Linked DNA regions of Homo sapiens. The protein of the gene in region 3 interacts with the protein of the main gene of each other region in a pairwise test. Each region holds a gene or a part of one and is shown on either strand. Other genes may lie near its edges. The genes, in order: RNF5, DTX2, SEC22A and ELOVL4.

Region 1 (7,816 bases), on a different chromosome or scaffold from region 3:
CACGTAGCAACCACAGAGATTTTTCTGTTAGCACAGATTTTTCTGAAACACAGAGCATTTCCCTGTCTTGCCTAAAGGCTCTTCTTGATAAGTTGACTTCTGCTTACATCTTCGACCACATCCTCACAAAACTCTTTGTTCCAGTCAAACTGATTCACTTCAGTTCCTCAGACACCATGATCTTTCATGCTTCCCCACCTTGAACATGCTGTTCCCTTTGGCTGGAATGCCTGTCTCTTCTCCTGCCTCACACAGCTCAGTGTCACCTTTTGGAGGGCTGCCTGAACCCCTCCAGGCCTGTGCTTTCCTTACACTTTTATCTTGATCAGCGGGTCTCGAAGTATAGAAATGCAAATTATTAGACTTCACCCCAGATCTACTGAATCAGAAATTCTGGGCATTAGGTCCAGCAATCTGTTTTTCTTTTTCTCACTCTGTCACTCAGGCTGGTTTTGAACTCCTGGACTCACGCGATCCTCCTGCCTCAGCCTTCCAAACTGTTGGGATTACAGGTGTGAGCCATCGTGGCTGGCTAGCAATCTGTATTTCAACAAGCCCTCTGGTGAGTCTGATGTGCGCCTGAATTTAAGAACCACTGATCTTGACAACACACTATGTGTTGACTGGCGTTTTTGTTTCCCTCCTTAGGCTGTAAGCAGCTTAAGGACAGGGACTCTGTCTTATCTCCAGTGCCAGGACAATAGGAGATGGAGTAGGTGCTCAATAAACACTTGCTGAACAGATTCTAAGGCTGTATACCCACCCATAGAGCCACAGTTAATGACAGAGATGGCGGTTCTGATCACAAATTAGATAGTTATCCTCTTGAGTAGAAGTGACTACTAAAAGAAGTCACTGAGAAAGTAACGAACACACCAAGCCTAATGGTAACCGACTCTGAATAGATACATGCAATACATAGCCATAATGAAGGCAGAGTAACAATAATCAGGAAGAGGTCATCTCACAAGAGAAATGTACCGAATGGGATCAAGATGCCACAGGGAAAGATGCTGCTCTCATCAAATGTGTGCCAACAGTGCAAAGAATGGAGGATAATGTCCATAAATAAATACCAACAATGGGGTTCACAGCAGGATTGACCCTGTGACATGCATTGAGCTCATGGACACAGACTGTACACAGCCACTGGAAAGATAATGTTTGTGTAGAGAGGTATGGGCCAGGGAGGTCACCAAGGTAAGGCATGCAGGGATGGTTCTTTGCAGACCTGGAGACCCAGTTACCTTCTTCTCTTAACACTTGATATTAAGTGACCCTCTTTGGAGAACAAAAGTCCAAGGATTTAGAAATGCAATGGAGGGCCAAATTTAATGAGCATACGGCTCACAAAATATACTGATGACAAATTTATAACACACATTCTATGGTCCTGTTACATCAGTGTATCATGCAAAGGCGCATACACATGTGTTCTGTGAACTGTGACTGGGAAAACACAGCAAACAGGCCAATTCAGTCAGACATCAGAGTGTGGGGTATTCAGCCAAGCCATGGGATCCCACACATGAAGACTACTGCAAATGGTAGGACCATGGACATGTCAGCCAAAGCAAAATAAGGTATATAACCTTCACATGCTGAAATAAACATGCCAAAACATAAAATGTGCAAGTAACATGAAATTATAGAACAGGTGCAATATATGAAAACTCACACACATGCGGTACTTAAAACATGTCAAAACTGGATGTGAGACATGGACACAAGAATGAAGAATGGGCAATTCTGATAGAAAATAACACACCATTTCTACACAGCCTATGGATAGCATTGGGACAACCTAGTTGCACACAAGCCATTAAACATGTCAAAGGCACACAGACTCAATGTAGAAAACATGGCTCCCATAAGGCATTTGTGTGTCAGTAAGGGTCTAGCAGTGTGGAAGGCCACTGAGAAACAAGAGGTCCTGTGCCTAGATGGAAACAGAGGCACCTAAGGGTATTCCTAAGAGGCAAATTCTGCTGGCCTTCTCCCCTCATGACCCTTCAAGAGTCATGTGGGGTCAAAGGGCAAGAAAAGGAATTGGGGAAGGTGTAGGGAATTCCCTCTCCAGGATTCCCTGTGCACGCTCCCAGTCCCAAATTCACAAGGGTTTCCATTTCTCCTCCCTCCCAGGTCTCTTCCATCCTTCCTCCCTCTCAGGTCCCCTCTCCTATCCCCAGCAACCCTCTTCCCAGTCGGCCCCTCTCCTTTCCCCAGCAACCCTCTCCCCCAGTCGGCCCTCCCAGACCCAATCTCTCCCCTTCCCCTCATCCTAGTCGCTTTCAGCACCCTCTTCCCTCCTCCTCCCATCCCTTTCCCGCCCACACCTCAGAGGGGTAGGGGGCCTGGGGGGCTGGCCCCCTCCCCAGCCAGGCTGCGGCAGCGGTGGTGGCGGATGGCTGTGTCTCTGTCTCTGTCGGGGTGTCGGTGCCAAGGGGGCGACGGGATTTGGGGGTGTCCTAGCCCCGGCCGATGGAGGGGAGGTGGGAGTGGGAGGTTGGGCCCATAGCGGTAGGAATGGTGGGGGGCTGTCCCCCCAGCACCCTCCCTCCCTCCCTTTCTGCTGTCTCTCTGAGGGCTGGGGCTGCTGCCGCCGCTATTCCCCCGCCACCCCTCCCCAACGCCTGCTGGTTTCCGGGGCCGGCCAGGAAGTGGAGGGCGGTGATGGGCAGCCTGTTTTGCCAATCGTCTCCCAGAAACTCTGGCATCTCCTCCCCACATCTACCAGTGTCCTCTTGCGAGCCCCGCCCCAGGGCTCTCCCTCGGTCTTTGCCCCCATCTCTGGCTCCAGCTGCATCTTTTTTTTCTCTAACTCCCTTTCAGCTCTGGATCCCCTGGTGCTGTATTCCTCCTTCCGCACATTCCTTCCTTTATTCTCCATCAGCTCTCTTTTAACTGCCACTTTTACTTGGTCTCTTTTTTTCTCAACTCCGGTTATCTGCTGCTTATTCCCCCCAACTATTCTTAAGGACCCCTTTTCCCGTACCCATTCAATTCTAAACATTTATCAAGCATCTACCTACCATATGACAAGCATTAAGTTCACCTCTCTTCTTTTTCTCTCCAGGACTCCATCTCACTCCATCTCACTCTCCAGTCCTCTGGTCTGGTTTCCTTTGCCCTTTGTCCCTCACTATCTCCCAGCAGTCCAGCTCCCCCCTCCACCTGCCTTCTCTGGCCTTTAAAGAGAAGAGATCTCTTTGGCCTTATCCCTGACCCTTTCCTTTTCCATGCTCTTTTACCTCTGTACCTTTTCTTTCCTACTTCCTTCGTATCAGTCTCCTTACTTGCCCAAGCTGAGACAACCCCTTCTCACAACATACAATATGGGTACATCTTTTCTTCCAATGGAAATTTGGCTTCAGGGGTGCTTTCTAGAAAAATAAAAAGTGAGGAAGAATGCCGATTCCTCTGGAATGCGCGTGCCTCCTTAATTTGGTAGCCATGTATCTAGTTTTCCACCCCCTCTTCTCTTCCTCCACTCCCATTATCCCTTTACTAGGATCATTCCATCACTTCACTCTCCTTCATTTCCACCTTTCCCTCTCAATATCTTCCTTCCTAAACCTCAAGCTTCCTGAATCCTCATCTGCCCCAGTCCTTCTTTACGCAACTGCTAACTTCTCATCTTTCCTTACTCTTGAGTCACATGGGATCTTTTATCAAGGTCCCCCCTCTAGCCACACCTTTACCCTGCATTAGTTTACATGCCCTCGGGAAGAGGATTGGTAGTGGGAGGACTGTTACCTAATTCTGCTCCTTTAGTCACAGTGAGGGTCAGTGATTGTAGGAAAAGCCCAAACTCCCCGGGGTCCAACCTGGGAAGAAGACCCTATTTCTGATGGGCAAATTATAAAGAGGAAAGGGCGGGTCTAGCCTCCGCGGGTCTCCTTAAAAGGGGCGGGCTTTGTCCCTTTTGCACCACTCACAAAGGGGTTGAGCCCAGAGCTTTCCTGCTCTGAAGGTTTAAAACGGAGTTGAAGTCAATCCTGTTCTACTCTGTGTACAACATTAAGAAAGGGGTGGGCCTTTAGTTCAGTTTTGCTCTGTAAATCACCTAATATGGGGAGGGCTGAGTCGTCCAGCCGAATGAGTTGGGTTAACACCAGCGCCGCAGATCGATGTTCCCACTATCCAAACGTCGGGCTAATCCCAGTTCTGCTCCCTTAACTAAAAGGGAGGGGCAGACCCAAGTTCTGCTCTCTACGTCACCAAAGGAGGTTGGAGCCATTTTGAACCCTGCGACCCTAGTGTTTTCCCTCTTTTCCTAGCTCTTCGCCGTCTTTCCCGATGTCGGCCAATCAGGGGAAAAGGAAAAGGCCCAATCAGCAGAAAGTCCACAGCTGAAGGACCCGGATGAAGCGAGCCTAGGACTTTGAAGTGCAAGCCTCGCCAATTGTAGAGCAGTCACCATGGCGACAAGATAGGGGTGAAGAGGTGGAAAAAGAGAAGGTTAAACCCTCACAGGATTGGCCCACCCCCGTCCCGCCGCGTGCTGCGCAGGCGCGTTTTACCTAACCACCATTTTCCGTCAAGTTTTAGCCAATGAGTTGATTTGGAGCCATACGCTCCAAAGTCCAATAGCAATCCGGACATTCTCTAAAAGAGGAAGCGAAGGAAAGAAAGGGGCTTATAGTGGGCGAGGTCTATAGGTAGTCCCGAGCAAATTGCTTATGGCTTTGGTTATGACTGACAACTACTCAGACGAATAAAGCCCTCCTTGGCCAGGCGACAGCGTGTAGCGAGTTATTACCAATCCCTTGGCATTGCACATTGACTTAGACCGTATCAGCCAATAGCCATTGTGCGAAGGCAGGACTGCACTAACCTTTTCCCGCCCCTACCCTTTGGGCCAATCCTTTCTTTTGAATTCTTTGTGACTGGCAGGCATTCAGACCAATAGTGATTAGGAAACCTTGAAGCCTGCCCAACGATCGTGGGCAGGAGGTGGTTTCTGGTTTGTTGGGGCGTGTGTATGTGTATTTGGGGGGACTGAAGGGTACGTGGGGCGAAACAAAACCGGCCATGGCAGCAGCGGAGGAGGAGGACGGGGGCCCCGAAGGGCCAAATCGCGAGCGGGGCGGGGCGGGCGCGACCTTCGAATGTAATATATGTTTGGAGACTGCTCGGGAAGCTGTGGTCAGTGTGTGTGGCCACCTGTACTGGTGAGAATCGAGGAGGGGGGCGGGAGGTGGTGGGTCTCGCTTATATACTGGAGAGGCTAGGAGCGAATAATCATACAGTCATACAGATAATCGGAGGGCACGTTCCCATAGGTGAAGCCCGACAGGAGACATAAGACTTTGCTGGTATGTGTGGGTGGGAGTATAACGGTCGAGATCTGTGGAAAGAAAGGTCTTAGGAACCAGGAGCTGAGGCACGTGATGTGCTGAGAAGAGAAGGTGGGGCGGGGAGTGGCAGGACAATGTGAGACCCGAGCCACCTTACCCCAGAGAAGTGAGGGGTCTTAGCTGTGCAGGTGGAAACAAGTGAGACACAAAGGTTAAGGGAGGCACGCATCAGTTGAGTCGGGGAGAACCAGGAAATATGGATCACATTCAGATGAGATCTGGGAGGGGGCTGGTATAAGGGCACTGTGGAGAGGCAGACTTGAAAGGTTAAAGGGTCATAAAGATAGGGACATTATTGAGCTTGAAAGTGAGTAATGGGGGAATGTGCTAGTAAAGGGGTTTGGTTTGGAGTGATGGGGTTGGGGTTGAAAAGAGGAGACCCAGAAAGAGGTGGCTGAAGGAAATTAGAAATTAACTTGAAAGGCAGAAAAGAGAGGGCACGAAAATTTGTATGTGTTTGTTGGGGAGAGGAGAAAGGAGAGGGTTGAGTGTGTTGAGGATGGACAGAGCTTTAGGTGTTGGAAGATCAGACAAGCAGGAAGGCTAACTAAGTTGGCTGGCATGGTAGAGGTTGCAGAAAATCTGAAAAGCAACAGCAGGTTGCTTGGGAAGAGGGGTTAGATGGGATTCTGCGAAGTCTAGGGTCTGTGTCTCTCTTTTCTGTAGCTAGTTTGACCTTTTTTTTTTTTTCTCCCCCATCCAGTTGGCCATGTCTTCATCAGGTGCGTACTCAGGAGATGAAGAGGGAAATGGGGAGGTCTGAGGAGCTGTAAGACCCTCTTGTATACTGGAAACCACCTTTTTTCTCCCCAGTGGCTGGAGACACGGCCAGAACGGCAAGAGTGTCCAGTATGTAAAGCTGGGATCAGCAGAGAGAAGGTTGTCCCGCTTTATGGGCGAGGGAGCCAGAAGCCCCAGGATCCCAGGTGAGAGACTGGAGGTGTTGCTTAGGGAAGATTGAAGGCTTCTGCCCTTGGAAAACGGTGTGGAAGATGGGAGGAGAAAAATCCCTGTTAACTTTCTCTCTCCACTTCCTCAGATTAAAAACTCCACCCCGCCCCCAGGGCCAGAGACCAGCTCCGGAGAGCAGAGGGGTGAGTCTTCTTGTCCAGTTGTGTCCCTTCCTTGACAGATTTGCCGGCTTCCTGTCTGACTTTTTCTGCCTCCCTAGGGATTCCAGCCATTTGGTGATACCGGGGGCTTCCACTTCTCATTTGGTGTTGGTGCTTTTCCCTTTGGCTTTTTCACCACCGTCTTCAATGCCCATGAGCCTTTCCGCCGGGGTACAGGTAAGAGTCACACTCAGCTCCCATCAGGGAGCCCTGTGAATCCCCTCAGGCCCCCTCCCAGCCTAGGAGCATATGCTTCCACAGCTTTCCTCTCTCCCACAGGTGTGGATCTGGGACAGGGTCACCCAGCCTCCAGCTGGCAGGATTCCCTCTTCCTGTTTCTCGCCATCTTCTTCTTTTTTTGGCTGCTCAGTATTTGAGCTATGTCTGCTTCCTGCCCACCTCCAGCCAGAGAAGAATCAGTATTGAGGGTCCCTGCTGACCCTTCCGTACTCCTGGACCCCCTTGACCCCTCTATTTCTGTTGGCTAAGGCCAGCCCTGGACATTGTCCAGGAAGGCCTGGGGAGGAGGAGTGAAGTCTGTGCATAGATGGGAGAGCCTTCTGCTCAGAGGCTCACTCAGTAACGTTGTTTAATTCTCTGCCCTGGGGAAGGAGGATGGATTGAGAGAATGTCTTTCTCCTCTCCTAAGTCTTTGCTTTCCCTGATTTCTTGATTTGATCTTCAAAGGTGGGCAAAGTTCCCTCTGACTCTTCCCCCACTCCCCATCTTACTGATTTAATTTAATTTTTCACTCCCCAGAGTCTAATATGGATTCTGACTCTTAAGTGCTTCCGCCCCCTCACTACCTCCTTTAATACAAATTCAATAAAAAAGGTGAAATATATTGATGGGATCTCTTCCCAAGTTCGCCCCCACCCCCGACAGAAGCATCTTCTCCCCAACTTGAGTAGATGTTTGGTATAGTATGGTGAAGTATGGGGGTGAGTCCCTTTCCTTCAGGGCCCTCAAGGGTATAGGGGTGAGGTTGTGTCTCATACACACACACAGACACACAAGAGCAAGATGTGTCAGGTGTTTAATCATCATTGTGGGGGGCTCTGGTTGTAGAAGAAAGCTTGGCAAGGTGGGGTTATACAGGAGAGAGATTATACAGGAGAGAGTTGGTCTGAGGCCAGAACAGTTCAAGGGAAAAAGAAAAGGGAGCTGATGGATGGGATCTGTCTGTGGGCCCCTCAAGGCCCTCCAGTACTACTCTCGCCTGCCTCAGGTTCCTCCGACTGATTCAGTTCTGCACGCTCCTCCTCTTCCTCCTGGTTTTCTGGGGCCTTCCTGAGGAGAAAGATTGGGGGGAATGCGGCACGTTGTCGTTCCACCCCCCGACCC
Region 2 (6,805 bases), on a different chromosome or scaffold from region 3:
TCACCAGCTCAGGAGCTTCTTGTCCGTAGGAGAGGCTTTACTGGATGTGGGGTTCGGTGTTTATGGAGATGCAGCCCTTCTCCCTCCAGCTTCGTGCACGTGTGCACAGACAGCGAGTGAGGCCGTCAGGGTGGGCTCCTGCCACGTCTTGGCCCCTCCCCAGAGTCGCTGGACTTAGGAGCTAGTCTGCATGTGACAGACCTTCCCAGTCAGTGGCAGGCGTTTCCCGGGACAGTGTCTGTGTGGCGGTCGGCGTGTGTGCAGCTGCCTGTACATGCTGGACCCCAGACTCCCTTGTCCCTGTGATGTTCATGCCAGGGTAATGCAAGTTGAATCAAATCGTGGTGCCACAACGCCCCCTGGAGTAGTTTGTGCCCGAAGCGGCTGTCTGACTCTTCCGCGCAGCCTCAGAAGCGCCGGGGTCGGTTCCTCACTCAATGTGCGCGGGGATGCGGCTCCCAGGAGACTGTGCTGCTGTTTCTGCTCTTCTGCATCCTCCATGGCTCCTGGGGCTGAGCCGGGTCCCCGGACGGTGGGACTGGGGAAGGCTTTGCCCGACGGAGCTCGGGGCTCTGTGCCTGGCGCTGAGCTCTCCCGTCCCGCACACTGGCCTCCCTGTCTGGGCCCCTCTCGCATTTCCTCCTGGCAGCTTAGACCTCTTCCTTCCCTTCCTCGCCCTCTGGCCTCCTCTCCAGCCTGTGCTCCTCAGGACGCTGCTTATGTACTTCTCTCTTCTAGGAGCGACCCCGAAGCCAGAGCCAGAGCCAGAGCAGGTCATAAAAAACTACACGGAAGAGCTGAAAGTGCCCCCAGATGAGGTTTGTGTCTTGGGACCTTGGCTGCCTTTGTTTCTGTTTGGAAACAACTCCACATGGAAAGGACATCCGCCCCATCTTGCTTGAAGGGTGCTTCCCAGGTGCCTCTGGGTGCCAGGGCCTTGCTCCAGCCCCTTTGGTTTCATCTCCCAGCCTCCCGAGACCCACATCGTTATGGTCTGAGCTTTGCACTTAAGGAGCTGTGGTCCTGAGCAAAGCCCCTCCTCTCCCGGCCCTGGCCTCTCCATAGCCTGATGGCCATCCTGGGAGCAGGAATTCCAGAGACAAGGGATGGGCCAGCCTGCCCCACTCTCCACCTTGCGGATGCTGGTGTAGAAGTGAGGTGGCCTCGTCCAGGTGGCTGTCCTGCCCCCCGGCTATTGGGAGAGCTGGTCAAGGTTCTTATAATTTTTTTATTCTTAAAGACGGGTGCACACTGTCGCCCAGGCTCAGTGCAGTGGCGTGATCACAGCTCACTGCAGCCCTGTCCTCCTGACCTCCTGTAATGAACAGGACCAATCAGACTCCTGTTGCGCTTCCATAGAACCTGAACCTCTACTGAGCCACGTTTTGGGGGCTGCAGCACCACTTTCCCCTGATTTTAGCTGGGAGCCCTGGAGATACTGTTGGGGGAGGGGGTGGGTGAACGGCCGGGAGTACCAGTACCCAGAGATCTTCAGATACTTGGGGGCGGGTGGAAGGCCAGGAGCCCCAGTACCCAGGGACTCTTCACTTGTCTCTTTCTCCAGTCTGTTGAGTCCATGAGAAAAATCTGGTAAGTAAAGGTTTGGAAAGGAGCCTGAACGTCCTCCTCATGTGTCCCACCCCTTCCACAAGCCCTTGCCACATTCCCGCCTGCCCAGCGCTCAGCTCTGTCTCGGCCCTGGTGTCCATCTGGTGTGACTGGGCCGTTTCACCCCAGGCTCCTCCTCTCCAAGCTGCCGTCTGCACAGCCAGCACGCAGCTTGGATCATGGGAGCACTCCCTGCCTGGAACCGCCAGCAGGACCCCCAACTCACACACAGCCCCAAGCCCCTGAGTGTGGCAGCCAGACCCCCGAGGGCGCGCCTCTCCCTGATCCTGTCTCATCTCCTGCTCCCAGCCCACCCCCTGCCAGCTTTAGTGCCCATGAGCTGGCTCCTCGTTCAGAACGTCCTCCTCCCTCTTCCGGGTGCCCACTCTGTGCTTGTCCATCTGGCAATTCCTGTCTCCCTTGTAAGACCCCACGCCGAGGGCCTCCCCCAGGATCCTGCCCTGTCCGTCCTCCCCATTTGGTGGCTTCTGCTGTCATGTCGGGCCTGTGCTGCTGGTAAGCCCTTCAGAGGCACAGGTCCCGGTGACTCACCTGTGTCTCCAGCCTGTGGAATGGACTTTTTTTTTTTTTTTTCTGAGACGGAGTCTCGCTCTGTCACCCAGGCTGGAGTGCAGTGGCACAATCTCAGCTCTGCAACCTCTGCCCCCTGAGTTCAAGCGATTCTCTTGCCTCAGCCTCCCGAGTAGCTGGGATTATAGGCACCTGCCAACACGCCCAGCTAATTTTTGTATTCTTAGTAGAGATGGGGTTTTCCCGTGTTGGCCAGGCTGGCCTCAAATTCCTGACCTCAAGTGATCGGCCTCCTAGAGTGCTGGGATTACAGGCCTGAGCCACTGCGCCTGGCCTCGGAATTGACTTTGACTGCACTTCCAGCATTTCAGCACATGAAAGCCTCTTTTTCCAAGACTGGCCCACGTCAGCCCAGCCCACTGTTGGCGAGCATGACCCATGTTTGGTCTCCTCCAGGACTGCATCATCTGCATGGAGAAGCTGTCCACAGCGTCTGGATACAGCGATGTGACTGACAGCAAGGCAATCGGGTCCCTAGCTGTGGGCCACCTCACCAAGTGCAGCCATGCCTTCCACCTGCTGTGCCTCCTGGCCATGTACTGCAACGGCAATAAGGTGCCCCCACTGGCCCAGGGCGGAGGCGGGTGGCCCGCCCCCACAGTCCTGAGCTGTCCCCTGCAGGGGCGGGAGGGTTCCGGGGGTGGCTGTAGGAATGGGCCTCTGCAAAAGATGGTGCTGGGCGTGGGGCCAGCTTGAAGACCTTTCTAAAGGCCTGGCCGGCTCTCCTAGGCCTGCCCTACTCTTCTAGGTCTGCCCCACACTTTAGAAAGGAGGACCAGTGCGGCTGGTTCCCTCCACCCCTCCAGCCAGGCCTGAGAAGATTCTGGGCTTCTCTGAGCCCCAGGGCACCGCCTCCCCCTCGGCCACTTGTAAGCACCGCAGACACTGTCTCCCTTCTTCCTTACAGCATCCCTGTGCAGTCAGCACAGTGCTCATGAGGGAGAGGCTCAGAGCAGGGGCTGTGCCCAGGGTCACCCCACTGGGAGGTGGGAGCCAGGCCTTGAGGCAGGGCTGATCCTGGGCCCCACAGCAGCCTACACATGAAGAGCCGCGCCCAGACTGACCCCCAGCTGCTCTCCCTGCATCGGCCTTCAGGCGGGATGGGCAGAGTTTAGAGGCTTAGAGAACCGAGTCATGTGGCGCATCGGAGCCTGGCTCGGCCTTCCCTAGTGTCTGCCATCCTGGGCAGCCAGGGCCCAGCTCCGCAGATCAGACGCTGCAAGGCTGTCTATCCGACTGCAAATGCGATTCACCCGTGGAGATTTCTGCTCAGGATCCGAGTTTTCCCACTCGCCACCTGTCTCCTGATAGCATGTCCCTTAACGAAAATGGCATGAGTTGCTGGTGCAAAACAAAGCTTTCCAGGGAAGCTGTTGGAAGCCAGTTTCCGGGCAGGAGGCTGCCAGCAACTCCCTGGGATGGTGGCCAGCCCATTCCCGGGGCCCTTTACCATCTGACGGTGGAGGTGACGGTCTTGGGTGTTCTCAGACTGCCAGCTCAGTGGGTTGCGTCTGCCTCTGTCAGGATGGAAGTCTGCAGTGTCCCTCCTGCAAAACCATCTATGGAGAGAAGACGGGGACCCAGCCCCAGGGAAAGATGGAGGTATTACGGTTCCAGATGTCGCTCCCCGGCCACGAGGACTGCGGGACCATCCTCATAGTTTACAGCATTCCCCATGGTATCCAGGTGAGGGGCCTTCTTGAGTCCCCCACTCCTGGCCACTCCTCTTCCCACCCCGCCCACATCCCAGCAGTCTGCCCCTGGATCAAGGCTGAGGATGCCCATGTGGCCAAGCTCAGGCCCCCAGGTCCCCTAAGGCCAGAGCCATGGAGGGCCGGGAATGGGGAGGCAGTGCCGGGGCTTAGGGTAAGCTCTTAGGGCTGTGGCAGCAAAAGGCTGGCCCTCCACTCTTTCCTGAACCAAGGAAGCCTTCCTAGAGGAGGAGCCATCTTAGCTGGACTTGTTCTGGGCAGAAGGGCAGGCAGTTCAGTGGGAGGAACCCTGCGGAGGGGCTGGAGAAGCGGGGCCACAGCAGGGTGTGCGTCGAGGAACCTTGGGTTGGGAGTGGCAGGGCCAGGCGTGTGGGTGTCAGGAGCCCAGGCACAAGGCCCCAGAGTCCCAGAGGAGACTCAGACGGGCCCTAGCCCTTTCGGTCTCCTGTCTTGAGCCAAGGTGGATCGTAGGGCCTGGGGCAGGGTGGGAAGATAACGGGGCAGCAGGCAGCGGGCACTGGCTGCCAGCCAAGGTCCACCTGTGGTGGATGGAGGCATCTTTTTGTCTTGTTGAACCATGAGCCTTTCCCCTGGTTTCCCTCCACTTCTCCACAGCTCAGAGGGAAATTCAGGAACATTCGGGGTTGGCATCTCGGAGCGGGGGAGGAGCTGGAGCTGTGCAGGGGCCTGTCCCTGTGCGGGCTCTCGGAGCACCCTATCCTGGTGTCTGTTCCTCCCGCAGGGCCCTGAGCACCCCAATCCCGGAAAGCCGTTCACTGCCAGAGGGTTTCCCCGCCAGTGCTACCTTCCAGACAACGCCCAGGGCCGCAAGGTGAGTGCCACCATGCGCCCGGGGGGTGGACGGGGCCCTGACCAGGCGGCAGGAGGCCAGGCGCCACACTGGACTCTGCTTCTGCAGCGGAGGACAGAGGCTGAGGCCGGGCCGAGTGTCTGCTGCTCTTTTCTGGGGACCTGCTGTAGGTACAGGGAGGGCAGCCTGGACCTCACATAGCCTCGAGGGAGGAGGAGAGGCCATCACCTTCCAGCACCCTGCCGGGTGGGGTCAGGAGCTCCTGAGAGTCAGAGTGTGACAGGCAGGGACCGGGGGCTGTGTTAGACCAGGTGACCACGGAAGGCTGGAGCAGTGGTGTCTGCACTGAGACATGAATAGGGACTTTGTGGCTGCAGAGAAGGTTGGGGACGAGCCTTCCAGGAAGGCAGGATAGTGGGAGCCCGTGGTGTGGGTGTGAAGACAGGGTGCCCCCCAGGCCAGCACCAGGGGTAGAGCTGGTTCTGAGCGCCCAGCGAAGCCACGGAGGTGGAGCTGCTGATGGAGCTTTGGAAAAGCTCTGGCCGTGTGAGAATGGGCTTGAGGTGGCGGAGCTGGAGGCGGGGAGAGGGCAGGGAGAGGGCAGGGAGGCCTGGATTCCACCAGGGAGGGTGGGTGGGCGGGCGCTCGTCCAGCAACGGCTGTGGAAGCAGGGAGGACTCGAGCATGGTGCCTGGGCATCAGGACCAAACGGATGGCAGTGCCAGGCACTGAGGCGGGGTGGGCTGGAGCCCAGGTTCATGTGGGATCCTAATGTACTATCCAGTGGGCAGTTTTGGGGTCCCTGCAGATGGGGTGAGTGCCAGGGAGTGGATGAGTCACCTGGGAGGGGCTGGGATGGGAAGAACATGGTGCCAACCCGTGCCTGCTCACTGAGCCCCTCTCACTCTCCGTCCCCTCCTTCCTCTTCCCCCTCCTCCTCCCCGGGCAGGTCCTAGAGCTCCTGAAGGTGGCCTGGAAGAGGCGGCTCATCTTCACAGTGGGCACGTCCAGCACCACGGGTGAGACGGACACCGTGGTATGGAACGAGATCCACCACAAGACAGAGATGGACCGCAACATTACGGGCCACGGCTATCCCGACCCCAACTACCTGCAGAACGTGCTGGCTGAGCTGGCTGCCCAGGGGGTGACCGAGGACTGCCTGGAGCAGCAGTGACCTCGCACCCCAGCACGCCCGCCTCTGGTGGCCACCCCGCTGCCCCATGGCTGGCTGGGTGGCCAGGCAGGAAGTGCCCAGCCCGAGAGGCTGGGAGGTTTGTTGAGGGTGTGGGGTGTGCCCCACCTGAAGCCGGGGCTCCCCCTGCCTGCCTCTCTCTCCTCCTCCCCTCTGGGAATTGGGCAGCCCTGGGCAGTTGTACTCATGGGGGCTTAGGATGCAGCTACCTCAGTGCGCAGGGCCCGTCTGTCCTCTGGGGGCTGCTTCGGGCCCGCGGTGCTCGGGGCCTGGTGTGGGGCGAGTAGAGACTTCCCCAGCCTGGACGGGCGTGGGTTCTGGGTCAGCTTCTTTTACCTCAATTTTGTTTGCAATAAATGCTCTATAGCCAAAGCCAGCAGGTCCTGAGTGTGTGCATGCATGCGTGTGTGCGCACTTGTGTGTGTGTGTGCCCCCCCCCACTTCCTGCATCAGAGCAAGAGGGGGTTCCATGGGCTCATCGGCTCCCATTTGATAACTGAAGAACAGGCCACAGCCAGGCATGGAGGAGCCCACGGTACTGGGCTGTGCGGCCTCCACATGCCCTACACTGATCTCCCTGCCATGCCAGAGGCTGTCACCCCAGAGCACCAGCTGTCACCTTTGTGGCCCTGGGGTTGTGGTTCACAAAATGCCATTCACTTAGGATTGGAGCTGCTGTCTCTGTTTTACTGATGTGGAAACAGGTTCAAAGGTGCAATGACTTGAACCAGGCATGGTGACGCATGCCTGTTATCCCAGCTGCTCAGAAGGTCGAGACAGGAGGCTCACTGTAGTCCAGACATTTGAGACCAGCCTGAGCAAAATTGCAAGACCTCATCTCTAAAAAAAAAATTAGGCCAGGTGCAGTGGCTCACGCCTCTAATCCTA
Region 3 (7,306 bases):
TCTCCTGCCTCAGCTTCCTGAGTAGCTGGGATTACAGGCATGCACCATCCTGCCTGGCTAATTTTTGTATATATACATTTTTTTTTTTTAAGATGAAATTTCACCCTGTCACCCAGGCTGGAGTGCAATGGTGTGATCTCGGCTCACTGCAATCTTTGCCTCCCAGGTTTAAGAGATCCTTCTGTCTCACCTCCCGAGTAGCTGGGATTACAGGCATGCACCACCATGCCCAGCTAATTTTTATATTTTTGGTAGAGACAAGGTTTCACTATGTTGGCCAAGCTGGTCTCAAACTCCTGGCCTCAGGTGACCCGCCCACCTTGGTCTCCCAAAGTGCTGGGAATACAGGTGTGAGCCACTGTGCCTGGCCTAGTTTATTTTCTTGAATCTATGGGTTTATATTTTTTATCAAATTTTGGAAAATTTTGGCCATTATTACTTCAAATATTTTGTATCACCTCTCCTTTCTGAGTCTCTGATTATACATGTTAGATAACTTTGTATTAACCATAGGTCACCAAGGCTGTGTTCATTTTATTTTAAACTTTTTTTCGCTCTGCACTTTAATGTAGATAATTATTTTTCACTGTTACTTTGTTTACTGATCTTTTCTTCAGCAGTGTATAATCTGCTGTTAAGCCCATAGAGCAAAATTACCAATTCAGATATTGTAGTTTTCTGCTCTAGAAGCTTGATTTGGTTCTTTTTATGGTTTTCATTTATCACATTATTTATGTTTCTTTAAATTCTTGGCCATATTTATAATAGCTTCTTTAAAGTTCTTATCTTACCTGCTTGTAACCCCAGTGCGCTGATGCCCTCTAAAACTTAAAAAAAAAAAAAAAAAAAAATTAAAGAAGAAAAGTGAAGTTCTTATCTGCTTTGAAAACTAATTTCATCATCCTTGTCATTTCTGGGTCTGTTTCTATTGACTGATTCTTCTCCCATTTGTGACTCATGTTTCAATGCTTCTTCACATGTGTAGTAATTTTTTATTGGATACTAGGCATTGCATATATTACATGGTTAAGTACCTGAATTTTGTTGTCTTTCTTTAAAGACTGTTAAGTTTCATTCAAGAAAGCAGTTAATTTACTTGCAAATCAGTTTTTTCAGCTTTGTTCGAGTGGGTTTAGAATAGTCTTTACTATTGGGCTAATTTAGCTTTAAAGTGTGGCCTTTTTAGGGTCTCTTTACCAAATGCTTCAGGTTTTAATAAGATTTAATAAGATTTCCCATTCTAATCAGTCAGAGCCTAAATGTTTCCAAACTCTATTCAAGTTCTTGTAGCTGTTCAGCTTAAATTTCCCCAGTAATTGTTATTTACCAGCCTCATACAATCTATCCTTAAAGTTATACCAAAGATTCACAGGAATCCTTATGTATATTTCTGGAGCTCTTTCTCTGGCACCCTGCCCCACAAATATCATTTGTCTCAATCTCTATTAATTCCAATTTCTGTGTCCTCAACAAACCCTGCTTGGCTTTCTTCTATCCTGTGCTTACCTCCAGAAAGAAATCTGTGGATATTCTGGGGACTCATCTTGTTTGTTTTCCTTCCTTCCAAGATCACAACTTTACTATGCCAGTTGTCCAATGCCTGGAAACACTTGTTTCATAGATTTGGTCCAGTTTTCCGTTACTTGTAGTGGAAGGTTTAGTCTGGTATCACTTATTTATTCATGGCTGGATTGCTCTTAACATTTGGAAAAACATAAACTTTCTATTCAATAGTAAAATACATACTGGAAAATTTCATAAATATAGCATACAGCTTGATGAATTTTCTTTTCTTTTTCTTTTCCTTTTTTTTTTTTTTTTGACACAGGGTCTCACTTTGTTGCTCAGGCTGGAGTGCAGTGGCACAAACATGGCTCACTGCAATATTGACCTCCAGGACTCAAGCAATCCTCCCACCTCAGCCCCACAAGTAGCTGAGACTACAGGCGTGCACCACCATGCCTGGCCAATTTTCAGAGAGGGTTTGGCCATGTTGCCCAGGCTGGTCTTGAACTCCTGAGCTCAAGTAATCTGTCTGTCTCGGCCTCCTTGGCCTCCCAAAATGCTGTGTTGGGATTACAGGTGTGAGCAAGCCACCATATCCAGTCCAGTGAATCTTCATTAATTGAAAACACCATGTAATCAACACCTGGATCAATAAGAACATTACTAGATCTCCAGTAGCCCCTTATTGCTCCTTTCTAATTATTAACACTAATAATTATAACTTATTGGTTACCCTTGGGTAACCAATATTTTACTTCTATTACCTTATATGATTTTTTATTTTGAACATTATGTAAATGGAATCATATAGTAATCTTTTTTGTGTCTGACTTATTTCACTCAATTTTTATGATTGTGAAATTCATGCATGCTTTGCATATGGTTGTAGATTATTGTCTTTCCTGTATAGTATTCTACTATGTGAATATTCTTCTTCCTTTTTTTTTTTTTTTTTTTTTGAGAAGGAGTCTTGCTCTGTTGCCTAGGCTGGAGTTCAGCGGCATGATCTTGGCTCACTGCAACCTCTGCCTCCCAGTTTAAGCAATTCTCCTACCTCAGCCTCCCAAGTAGCTGGGATTACAGATGCCTACAACCATGCCTGGCTAATTTTTTTGTATTTTAGTTGAGATGGGGTTTCACCATGTTGGCCAGGCTGGTCTCGAACTCCCAACCTCAAGTGATCCACCCCCGCCCCCGGCCTCCCAAAGTGCTGGGATTACAGGCGTGAGCCATCGCGCCTGGTCAGAATATTCTAAAATTTATTTATTTCATGAACATTCTTATACATATGTTTTCTGGTGAATATATGAATACATTTATGTTGAGTATATATCTAGGACAAAATTTATGTTAGTTCAGGCCTTTCTTCTGAACTCTAGACCTACATATCCAAATCTACTTGACATCTCCATTTATAGGCATTTCAAATTTAACATATTCCAAACCATTTGCTCCTCTTTCTGTGTTCCATGAGTCAGTAAATGGCTTCTTAATCCATCTAGTTACTTAAGGAGTCATCCTTAATATTCCTTTTTGTTGACCCTTCCCGGCAAACCAATCCGTTATGAAGTCCCTTGGATACCATTTCTAATTTATACATATCTTGAAATTATCTACCTCTTTCTGTCTCTAACTCCCATTACACTAGTTCAAGCCCCATCATTTCTGGCTTTGCCTGACGCAACTGCCTCCAAATGGCTTTCCAGCAGCCCTTCTTGCCCTTTTCCACACTATTCTCCACAAACAGCCTGAGTGATTCTTAAATATGCAAATAGGATCCTACTTAATAGTCTTTATTAGCTGCCCATTGACCTTGGGCTGAGATGAGACAAGGGCCAGACCATGCTGACTCTTATTGGCCACATTACAGATTTCAGGCTGTATTTTGGAAGATATCTTAAGGTCAACGGGCAAAGTTTCTCCTTGCTCCCTACACTCCATCCACACTGACTCCCTTTTAGTTCCTAGAGCACAAGAAGTTCTTTCATGCCCCGACAACCTCACACAATATTTCCTTGGCGGGGAACATTCTCTAAGGCTCTTCAATATGCCTGCCGCTTAAAAGGCACTTATTCAGAAGTCTTTTCCCTGATAGTCCAAAATTAATTGATCATTGCACCCACTAATTTTCCCTCCCAATACTGACAATTTGTAGTTCTGTAACTATTTATGCTTTAATATCTCTTGCTCCAATTACTCCTTAAATTCCATCAAGTGTTATGTCCACTCCTGTAACCCCGTGCTTAACACGGTGCTTGGCACATGGTAAACAGTCAGGAAATGCCTGTTTAATAATGCATGACCGATGCGAAGGCTGGAAGGGGTCGCAGGGTCAGCATCTGGCACTTCTCTGCCATGGTTAGTTTCCTTCTTGTGTGTGGGAATAGACGGGGCCAGGTCTTCTCCTTGCTCACCCAGAGGGGGCTTTTCTCCCTGTCCCCTTTATAAGTGTCTGCTGTAGGGCCGCGTGTGAGAGACAAAATGCCTGCAGAAACAGGGCGGCGAGCGGAAGAGATTGGCCCTATTTCTGAAGTCAACGTAGTTCTGTCATCAGAGGATGCTGTACTTTTCTGGCGCAGGTGCGAGAGAAGCTGCCAATCTCTCCTGGAGCGGGTGGGACTAAGGAGGGCCCCGGGAGCTGGGGGGTTGTTGTGTCCTTCCTGCAGAACCCGATTGGCCTGGGTGAGCTGAGGGAACGGGGGCGTGGTTTGATTCCGCGGGCGCGAGCCACGTTGGACGCGCCGCAGCGTCGCCGAAAGGTCCCTCCCAGGCCCCACAATGCACTTCGGGGCGCGTCACTCGGAGCGGCGGGTCCCGTCTCGACAGGTACTCCCCGGCCCCTCCCAGTCCTCTTCTTCCTTTCTTAGGGGTCGTTCGAATCCCTGCCGGCCTCTCCCCTCCCGCTCCCTGCCTCTCGCCACAGCCTCGGCCTTCGCCCTCGGGATTGAAGACCTACCCCACGGGCAGGAGCCAAGTCCGTGCCTTTGGGATGGGAGTCGGGGCCGCGGAGCTCTGGAGGGACGGGCAAGCGGGGACCCCGTCCCCTTCGACTTGAGGGTTCTCTGGGGCCAGGCGGGCGGCGGTTGCGCCTCGTCTGAGCCGCCTCGGGTGTTGGGCAGCCAGGAAAGGAGTGTTTGAAGGGGAGGGACAGTCGCACTTGGCTGTCAGCATGGTGGTGGGGATTCCCTGGCGCCCAGGTGTCAGAAACACGGTGATCTACCTGTGTAGGTGGCCCATGAGAGCTTGAGGTGGCATTTCCTATTTCTTTTAGGCAGAATGGGACTTGAACCAGTGTCTTACTTTACGTTTTGTGGGGATGGAGTGAGCCCTGAGCCCAGATATTTGCCCGCGTTGGCTCACGGAAATCTCTTGAGACCCTGTCTCAAGAGTCACTTTGGGAACGATGTGGCAGAAGGGAGACCTGAGCAATTGGCTCGGCAAGTGGAGGAGGCTTCCAAAAGAAAAGGACAAGCCCCAGCTGGCTTGAATCTCTCTGCCAGTGAAGACAGCTTAAGATAATTTTTCCCTGCTGCTTAGTTTCCTGGATCATCCACCTGGGGCAGGGGGCGAGCTTGAGAACCAGTCCCTCCTATGCCTATTCAGCCAAGGCAAAGCCTAGCCCAGAGCAAAAGTATCAGCCACCAGACTGGAGATGTTGGGATCTTCAGTCAGGGGAACAGCCACTTTTCAAACTCTGAATCACTTTCCATGTTACTGATATTTGCTTACATGCTAAGATTGTAAGGAATCAGGCAATGCCTTAAACGGTACCTACAATTTCTGATATATTAAGGTTCATTCAGTATTTGACTCTGACACCTGTGACCATATCCTAAAGTAATGGGACATTCGGGTATTTCCTATGTTGAAAACCATCACATCTGTTTAGTGCCTTTTTTTTTTTTTTTTTTTTTTTTTTTTTTTTTTGCGTGCAACTGGTTAAAATCGAAGTATATCTTATGTTGGTATATGAAAGAGGCCTAGGTCTTATCACAGGGGTGCCTGTGACCTTCCTTGAGTGTCTCACAGAGTTGTTAGAATTGGGCCTGAGTTTAAATCCCTACTTTGTCACCTACTCGTTTAGGGATTAAAAAAAATTCCTCAAGCTTTCTGGGCTTGAATTTCCTCAAAGGTAAAATGGAACTAATAATACCTATCTCACAGGTTTTTGGAACGCTTAAATGAGGTAATGTGTATAAAGTGCGTGGTCCATGGAGAGTAATCAATAAATAATACAGCAAATATTTAATGTAGTGCTTTTAGCATGTTACAAGGCAATGTTTCAGGCACTTTACATGATCCTATGAGATAGATACTATTGTCATCTTTAAAACAAGCCTATGAGATAGATGCTATTAGTAGCCACAATATATAGATGTGGAAATTGAGATATAGAAAGGCAAAGCTTGTCCAAATTTACATGGCTGGTAGATGGTGGAGCCAGGATTAGAACCCAGGCAGCAAGTGAATAGATAGTTTCTATATCCCTGGTTTCTTGTGTCTTGTTGGTTTTGGGAGACTGATGAAGCATAGTGATGTAGAGATACTAGAAACTTAGACCGAAGTACCAGTTCTGCTATATACTAGCAGTGTGACATTGAGAAAGTGAGCCTTAGTTTCCTCATCTGTAAAATGGTGGTTTTACCTACCCAACCGTGAACTATGTGGCACTATAAAAATGTTGGGATTGACACATTTGAGCATGTATTGGGGGCCCTGTCCTAGATGTGGGTAAAATCTGTTGTGAAGCCTGAGGTCTTATACATACTGTGCAGTGCAAGCACCCATAATAGGAATGTCGAACACTGCTAGTGAGGTAGAAGGCATAGGCAAAATGGCGGAAATTCCATCCCCTTTATCACCCACTCTATCCCCCACCCTCAGCGAGCACTTTTAATAAAATAATATGTACCATATTGGTATTGTTTCCCAAACTTTGGTACTGTCACATATGCAAGATAATTTGATAAGCAAATGAACATTAAAAAATTCTCCCCAAATTTTCACACACATACATATTTGAATGAAACAAGTTCATTTAATTTAAATTAGGAGAAAAACTTAACATCTCAAAACTGATTTCACAGATATTATTGCTAAAAAATAAAGGACAAGAAAAGTAAGTCAATTCAAAGACCAATATTAGGTAAATAGTACAGGTGGATGAAGATAATTCTGAAAGTGGTACTTGGATGACTGAAGACTGGGAAGTTATGAACTAAAATAAATATGAGTGCTTTTGCCCCCAGTATAAAATGTTTTTATCTTAAAAGTGGCATTTGTGAAAGCATTTGGTTAGAACGTATATACAAAATCCACTTACATGTTGGGCTTTGTTTATTACCTTTTGAGAGATAACTTCCTGAGACATTGAGCCTGTAGTCATTACCCCTACAAGGTTCTGAAGAAGAGGGGTGTCTTATTATCTTGGGTCCAGGAACTTGCTAACCACTACTATAGTAGTTTGGCATTGTGGGAATTTATTTTCCTCAGCCTTTACATAAAAGTTTACCCAGATTTACCTAGATTCTAGCTTGTGCTTTTTCCTCCAACAGTTGCTGATGGGGAGAGGAAAAAATAGCCACTATTCAGGTTCCCTGTGAGTTAACTGCTGCTGTACAAAGGCAGGTGTAATATTTTCTCTGTATTAAAGGTGAGGAGAAATGGCCCAGTGCCCTAAACATTTATCTATGGCCCCGATAAGCTAAAAACTCCTAAATCTTCCCATGCAATTGTTGTAATCTCTTGCTTTCCACAGTTCCACTGGTTCTTCCTTGGGATTTTCCCAACCACAACCCTC
Region 4 (7,022 bases), on a different chromosome or scaffold from region 3:
TCTGATAACTATTGCCAAAGAATCTCTTCAGTTGGAGGGCTGACTTCTTGCTTGCCGTAGGGAAGGGAACAGGGATAAGTGTTTGACTGACTGACTTCTGGGAGTATGCATAGAAAAACCCTTGGGTGGGGCAACATATTACTATTTTTAGGATAAAGGTTTAAAAATACCACTCTCACTTACAGATGTAAATTTTCAAGTCTTTAAAAAATGAGCTATTATGAGAACTGTAATCTAGGAGGATAAAGAACCTGAGATTTGCAACAGATTTCATTTGAAATCTTCCTCGTGCTCTCTTCTCCTCTCTAATATGGGATGCAATAGAGTGAATATTTTACGCAGAGACTCATTTCTGTATTCATTGTTACGTAGCCAAGAAGTATCACTTTTTGGTGTAGTTTATTTAAAGATATCTAGTGCAGTTTGCAAACTAAGCAGACTTATTTGTTGTTATTTTATGTGAATTGTGGCAAATGTAGAGGTCCAGATAGAGGAGAAATAAGAGATTGTATCTTTCCTTCTAGTTAAAGGTTACGATGCCAAAATGGTGACAGTTACTTTATTTTAAAGAACTAATATAATAGTGAATATTAACTATAGTGTTGCTGGGAGTAGTTAACTATTTCAAGCTTATTTTCAACCAATTCATATCATTTTTAATGATATTTTTCAAGTAAATTCAGTAAATAATTCTCAGTTTGTAAATACTTTGTTTCTTATATGCTTTCTGTTTCTTCTTTCCCCATACTTTAAAATTATAATTTTGTTTTTCAAATGCAAAAGCCAAAACAAACAAAAATCTCATGACATATACCAGGTGCAGGTATAAAATGCAAAGGGATCCTTCAACTCTAAAACACCTAAGCCTGTCTGTGAATGAATCTGACAGGGCCCTAACACATGAAAGCTTATAAATAGATTTTAGTTATGTACTGCCTTAATTGTTATTTGCACATAGGATGCTTATCATAGAAAATACTTGACATAAAAAATTAAGTTTGGTTTACTGTTACAGTAGGATTCTTGTAAAACATTTTAAAACATACAGAGGTCACCTCTCACTGGATCCTTAATCTCAGTATGTAATGTAATCTTTCTGTACCATCTGGTGCCTTAATTAGAGCCCAGGAAAAGAAAAGACTTATTCATGTAAGCAGGATTATATTTATGACCTGGGAAATATTTGTTTGTTCATTCCAATTTTTTATTTTAAAGATTTAATACCTAATACAAACTGCTGTGATTGGATATTTATGTTGTTGCACATATTGGTGCAGTCGGAGAGGTGAGGGAGAGAGGGAGGTGAGGGGAGAGGGTGGGCAGACAGGCAGACACTTGTAGAGACCAGTTGCTACATGAACTTACTTGCAAGTTTTTCTGAGGTAGTATAATGTAGGCTAAGCATGAACAACTAAAATCATTTTACAAAGTAAACATCTTAGTTCCTCTACCAAGTTGAAAAGCACAGCAGTCTGAATGTGCTTCCAGCTCTGTATTCAGCAGTTTGACACTATGTAACATCTACCTATGGAATAGACAGAAAATGTTCTCTAACTTATTGGCACTGTATAGATAGAGCTTTGGACTCTTTCTTTTCTATTTTTCCCCATGGAGAGATGCTTAGGTTTTTCAAACCTACTTAGCCATTAATGATTCCATGCCTTGTACATTTTGTGCAATATACAAATGTTTATTTTGGACTTACTTACAATGAGTATAAACCCATACAATAGTGTCATTTTGGTGTTTATAACACGCTTTCCCTTTTTACAGATAGCTGCTGCTCTGTGGTGGTACTTTGTATCTAAAGGAGTTGAGTATTTGGACACAGTGTTTTTTATTCTGAGAAAGAAAAACAACCAAGTTTCTTTCCTTCATGTGTATCATCACTGTACGATGTTTACCTTGTGGTGGATTGGAATTAAGTGGGTTGCAGGAGGACAAGGTGAGCATTTTCAGGAATATACTGCTTGCGTTTAATTGCATATATGTGTTCAGTGGAAAGCAATGAGAACCTAGGACTTTGACTTGATCTACCATTTAACTTGCTTTCATGGTTAATCATTTCCATGTTCATTTCTTTTTTTTTTTTTTTTTTTTTTTTTTTTTTGAGATGGAGTCTCGCTCTGTCACCAGGCTGGAGTGCAGTGGCGCGATCTCGGCTCACTGCAACCTCCACCTCCCGGGTTCCAGCGATTCTCCTGCCTCAGCCTCCTGAGTAGCTGGGACTACAGGCACACACCACCACGCCTAGCTAATTTTTTGTATTTTTAGTAGAGACAGGGTTTCACCATGTTGGCCAGGATGGTCTCGATCTCTTGACCTTGTGATCCGCCTGCCTCGGCCTTCCAAAGTGTTGGGATTACAAGCATGAGCCACCACACCCAGCCATCATTTCATTTTTTAAAAAATTTGAGGCAAGTATAACTTTTGCTTTTTATCTGTGACTACTTTAATACCTAAAGATTTGCCCCAGAGATGAGCATAAACCAAGACTAAAGGTAGAAAACAATATTTTGATGGGGAACGGGTCTAGTAGTTCTGATCCAAAGAATACCAAGACACAGCCCCTCAAATCTGAAGATTTCCATCTTAGCCCATAGCTCACTCCTGCCCTAATACAGATTGAACATCCCTAATCTAAACATCTGAAATCCAAATGCTCCAAAATTCAAAACTTTTTGAGCACCAGCATGATACCACAGGTGGAAAATTACACACCTGACCTCATGTGATGGGTCACAGTCAAAACACAAGTGCAGAACACACTTTATTCAGTATACCTAAGGGAAAAAAGACCCTCTTAGCCCTTTTCCATGTACAGCATAATGTTGATGCCAAACAACCACAGATAATGTCCACACGGGTGACATCTTTGCTTTCTGATGTTCAGAGTACACAAACTTTGTTTAATGCATAAAATTATTTTAAAATTTTATAAAATTACCTTCAGGATACATGTATAAGGTGTATATGAAGTTTTGGATTTAGACCTGAGTCCTATCCCCAAGACACATCATTATGTCTATGCAAATATTCCAAAGTTTAAAAAAATCTGAAATCAGAAACACATCTGGTCCTGAGCATTTTGGATAAGGAATACTCAGCCTGTATAGGTCTTGTTGGTTCTTATTCAAAGGAAATTTTATATAGCCTTGTTAATGTTAAAGAGGATCTAAATTCATAGCTTGGCCAAGATCTGCCTCCTGTCTTTTCAGATGCCTGTAGATTAAGGATGATTCACATTGTTGAGCTTGATGCAGATTATTCCTCTGAGGAGGATCCAGGGTACAAGTCATTATAGTATAGTTCACCTTGCTGCTTTCCATTGTCATATTATGATAATTGGCAGCTTAGGAATTCATACATATATTATTGGGGGCCCAGTTTAAAACAATACAGTTAAAGGCAACTTCTGTAATTTTAAAAGAAAATTAGTAAATCTGAACTGACTTAGATCACTTTATGACAAAAATTAATTATTATTACATCTATACCTTGATTAAATTAATATTCTGAAAAGAAAGAATGTCATTGAGTTTGACTGACTGGAATATCTCTGTAGATTTATCTATATTAAATGAATTATTCAATGTGTGTAGTGCTGTCATATTTTAAACTATTTAGAAACCTAAGAAATAAGTACTGTTTTGTTGCAGATATATATATTGGCACATCTAAAGGCAAGAATAGTAGAATTAAAAGTAACATAGGCAACAGTTCTAAGGGCCTATTTAAGCTCACTGGAGTACTCCATTTGAAAACCTACAACTGTGAAAGTCCTTTGCATTTGAACATACATTTTTATTTATATGGTAAAACCTCAAATCTAAACTTTAAAAATATCTAGCTTAATCTGAAGGGAAAACTTTTTCATTAGTACTACTTTATATTTTTCATTTCTAATCTGTACTCAAGATTAAATATTAAAAAATAATGTGTATTCATTTATTGTACATCTCAGTGGCTTACTGCCTAATAAAATTTTCTGTATCTTGTAATTACCTGTTGTTTTTCTAAAGCATTTTTTGGAGCCCAGTTGAATTCCTTTATCCATGTGATTATGTACTCATACTATGGGTTAACTGCATTTGGCCCATGGATTCAGAAATATCTTTGGTGGAAACGATACCTGACTATGTTGCAACTGGTGAGTTAAATGCTTCCAAAGTTTCTTCTGGTAAAATACTGAAATTGTTTAAATTTGATTAATTTTAAAGTGCAATGTCATTTTAGACAATTTTCTATTATGAAATTAACTTTATCCTCCAGCTATATCGCAGTTATGCCCACTTGACTCTAGATGACCTATTCATAGACTTATTGGTCCCAGCAAATCTTTGTTTTTATAATATGCTTAAAAGACTAGACATAGCCCTTACTCCTCTAAGGAAAACATTCTCTAAAGATGTTTGTGGAAAGGATGATTAAAGATCTAAGCACGCTACAAAGTACGTAGTATGAATAGAAAAATAATATGTATTTTTTCCCTACAGGTGATTTTCTTAACTTAAAATTTTATTACCTTTCTTCATCTTGTCCTTGCTTAAAAATTTTGTTTTTTATTTCATTTTTCAGTCTTTAACATATCTCATATATTTAGACTAAACAGCTGAAAAGAAAGCACATAGCCAAGGAAGGGGTGGGGCAAAGGAAGGGAATAAGGGCAAGAGAACTCCTTGTAATTCTCTAAAACACTGTCCTTAAGAGAGCAGAGACAGATATTTTCAAATGGTGGTCTTTAGTCCAGACAGTTTTCAGCACATCCCGCTAGTAAGACTGTTTGTGGCAATCTGAGTGTGTGCATTAGTGTACCTTTCAGATGCTAGGCACTAGCCTGTAATCAAACTGGAAATTCAAAGCCAACCTGGTAACTATTTTTCAAGCTTTAGAATTTATTATAATTTGCTTTAATCATAGCATGTGCACAATTTTATCAGTGGAATCACATTTGGAAATAATATTCATCTTTGCTTTAAGTTGCTAAACAGCTGGCTAACCAAACAGGAAGCACAACTTTTGGGAAATGCTGGGTGCGAAGGATTCATTTGTAACCGGAGTGGTATAGGAAGCTTCCTCCAGTTTTTGTGTAAAAGCTGTTAACACAGTTTGTGTAATTCATTTCTCTCAGTAAGTAGTAAATGGACCTAAGAAAATGAAGAGGTGATCAAAATCATGTGAATTAGTCCTATCTGGTTTGTTGGAGCCTACACCTGGCTCTCCTTGAGTGATGCCATACCCAATCACACCCTTATACACACCCTTTTTGGTGATGCAGCTTCTAAAAACCATTGTGAAACCACAAGTTCTTCAAATTAAAATATTTGCCAAGGAAAATTATAAAAGTTTAATATAGTATAAATTTTTAGCTTACATGGCATACATTATTTTAATATTTAAAATAAGTAATACTGATTATTTTAATCAATAATTAATATTTTAAGAACAATGCTATCCTTAAAAGAGAAACCACAATTGTCCATTTCAAACAGGATGTTGAGTTTGTATTTCCAAGCCAGAAGTTCCCACAACAGTTAGTCATATAAGTTAATTGTATAAAAAGTTAACCCTTGTTAACATTATGTCTTGACCCATTCTTTTATTGATACATCAGAATCTATTTCATTTTAATCATCTCACTTTGGGCTTTTTTCCTTTTAAAAATTCTTAAAGTTGAAAGTGATTCTTTTTGTATTTATTCTGAAATATCTACTAAATTTTATCCAAATATTATTTTTTTCTTTTTTTGGGACGGAGTTTTGCTCTTGTTGCCCAAGTTGGAGTGCAATGGTGCAGTCTGGGCTCACTGTAACTTCCGCCTCCTGGGTTCAAGCTATTCTTCTGCTTCAGCCTCCTGAGTAGCTGGGATTACAGTCATGGACCACCACACCTGGCTAATTTTTTGTATTTTTAGTAGAAATGGGGTTTTACCATGTTGGCCAGGCTGGTCTTGAACTCCTGACCTCAGTTGATCCACCCGCCTCGGCCTCCCAGAGTGCTGGGATTGCAGGCATGAGCCATCGCACCTGGCCATCAAAATATTAGTTTTTAAAGGATAGTGTTCGTTCAAATAAAAATTTACCTGCCTACTATCTGTAAGAAATAAATGAGCCATTTTGATAAGCTCATTTTAAGTATGTGTATCTGCTTGCTGACAATTTGATAGAAAGAAACCAATGTAAAATGTGGGAGGAAAACAAAATTGAAGAGCCTACAATACTATTACTTTACTCTCCTAGGCCATTGATTCCCTTTCATCAGATAACATTATTCAACACATATTCATTGATCCTGATGCTGTGCTGAGGACTCAAGAATCACCGATGGGCAAGACAAAGCCCTGCCTTCTAGAGTCATTTTCTAGTGGAAAGATAGGCAATAAAGAAATAACAAATACAGAAGACAATTTCAAATAGGTATAATTCTCCTTAAAAAAAATGCAGAAAGCTCTTTGGTTAATGGGATTGGGAGGGCCAATTGAAATTGAAGTCTTGTCAGAGAGTCCTTACTGAGGAGATGGCATTTGAGTTGTGAATGAGGAGCTAGCCATGGGAGCCAGAAAACAATAAATTTTGCACAGTGTGGCAAAATTTGGGCCTGTGATAGCTATGTAGAAGATGCCGATGTTGTTAAAAGTTGTTTACTATTCAGATTAAATGTTTTGTGCTGTCATTTCTGTTTTTCAGATTCAATTCCATGTGACCATTGGGCACACGGCACTGTCTCTTTACACTGACTGCCCCTTCCCCAAATGGATGCACTGGGCTCTAATTGCCTATGCAATCAGCTTCATATTTCTCTTTCTTAACTTCTACATTCGGACATACAAAGAGCCTAAGAAACCAAAAGCTGGAAAAACAGCCATGAATGGTATTTCAGCAAATGGTGTGAGCAAATCAGAAAAACAACTCATGATAGAAAATGGAAAAAAGCAGAAAAATGGAAAAGCAAAAGGAGATTAAATTGAACTGGGCCTTAACTGTTGTTGACAGTGAGGAAAAACTCCCATATCATATAAAATT

Evidence for each region.
Region 1: the proteins of SEC22A (region 3) and RNF5 interact in binary tests that used the Homo sapiens proteins (3 or more experiments, as listed by UniProt).
Region 2: the proteins of SEC22A (region 3) and DTX2 interact in binary tests that used the Homo sapiens proteins (3 or more experiments, as listed by UniProt).
Region 4: the proteins of SEC22A (region 3) and ELOVL4 interact in binary tests that used the Homo sapiens proteins (3 or more experiments, as listed by UniProt).

Annotation. Positions count from the first base shown.
Region 1 is NC_000006.12:32,173,478-32,181,293, forward strand, and holds RNF5 (E3 ubiquitin-protein ligase RNF5), read left to right. Parts: upstream 1-4,927; 5' UTR 4,928-5,034; coding exon 5,035-5,174; intron 5,175-6,063; coding exon 6,064-6,082; intron 6,083-6,173; coding exon 6,174-6,286; intron 6,287-6,338; exon of another isoform or gene 6,339-6,399; coding exon 6,400-6,454; intron 6,455-6,531; coding exon 6,532-6,649; intron 6,650-6,751; coding exon 6,752-6,849; 3' UTR 6,850-7,316; downstream 7,317-7,816. Other genes in the region: AGPAT1 (1-acyl-sn-glycerol-3-phosphate acyltransferase alpha), read right to left, coding at 3,033-3,035; AGER (advanced glycosylation end product-specific receptor isoform 2 precursor), read right to left, coding at 7,666-7,762. UniProt on the Homo sapiens protein: Membrane-bound E3 ubiquitin-protein ligase that mediates ubiquitination of target proteins. May function together with E2 ubiquitin-conjugating enzymes UBE2D1/UBCH5A and UBE2D2/UBC4.
Region 2 is NC_000007.14:76,499,703-76,506,507, forward strand, and holds the end of DTX2 (probable E3 ubiquitin-protein ligase DTX2), read left to right. Parts: intron 1-738; coding exon 739-818; intron 819-2,502; coding exon of another isoform or gene 2,503-2,517; exon of another isoform or gene 2,518-2,532; intron 2,533-2,595; coding exon 2,596-2,754; intron 2,755-3,723; coding exon 3,724-3,885; intron 3,886-4,653; coding exon 4,654-4,743; intron 4,744-5,671; coding exon 5,672-5,899; 3' UTR 5,900-6,289; downstream 6,290-6,805. UniProt on the Homo sapiens protein: Regulator of Notch signaling, a signaling pathway involved in cell-cell communications that regulates a broad spectrum of cell-fate determinations.
Region 3 is NC_000003.12:123,197,655-123,204,960, forward strand, and holds the start of SEC22A (vesicle-trafficking protein SEC22a), read left to right. Parts: upstream 1-4,288; 5' UTR 4,289-4,332; exon of another isoform or gene 4,333-4,480; intron 4,481-5,434; exon of another isoform or gene 5,435-7,159; intron 7,160-7,306. UniProt on the Homo sapiens protein: May be involved in vesicle transport between the ER and the Golgi complex.
Region 4 is NC_000006.12:79,916,548-79,923,569, reverse strand, and holds part of ELOVL4 (very long chain fatty acid elongase 4), read left to right. Parts: intron 1-1,773; coding exon 1,774-1,945; intron 1,946-4,022; coding exon 4,023-4,150; intron 4,151-6,686; coding exon 6,687-6,962; 3' UTR 6,963-7,022. UniProt on the Homo sapiens protein: Catalyzes the first and rate-limiting reaction of the four reactions that constitute the long-chain fatty acids elongation cycle.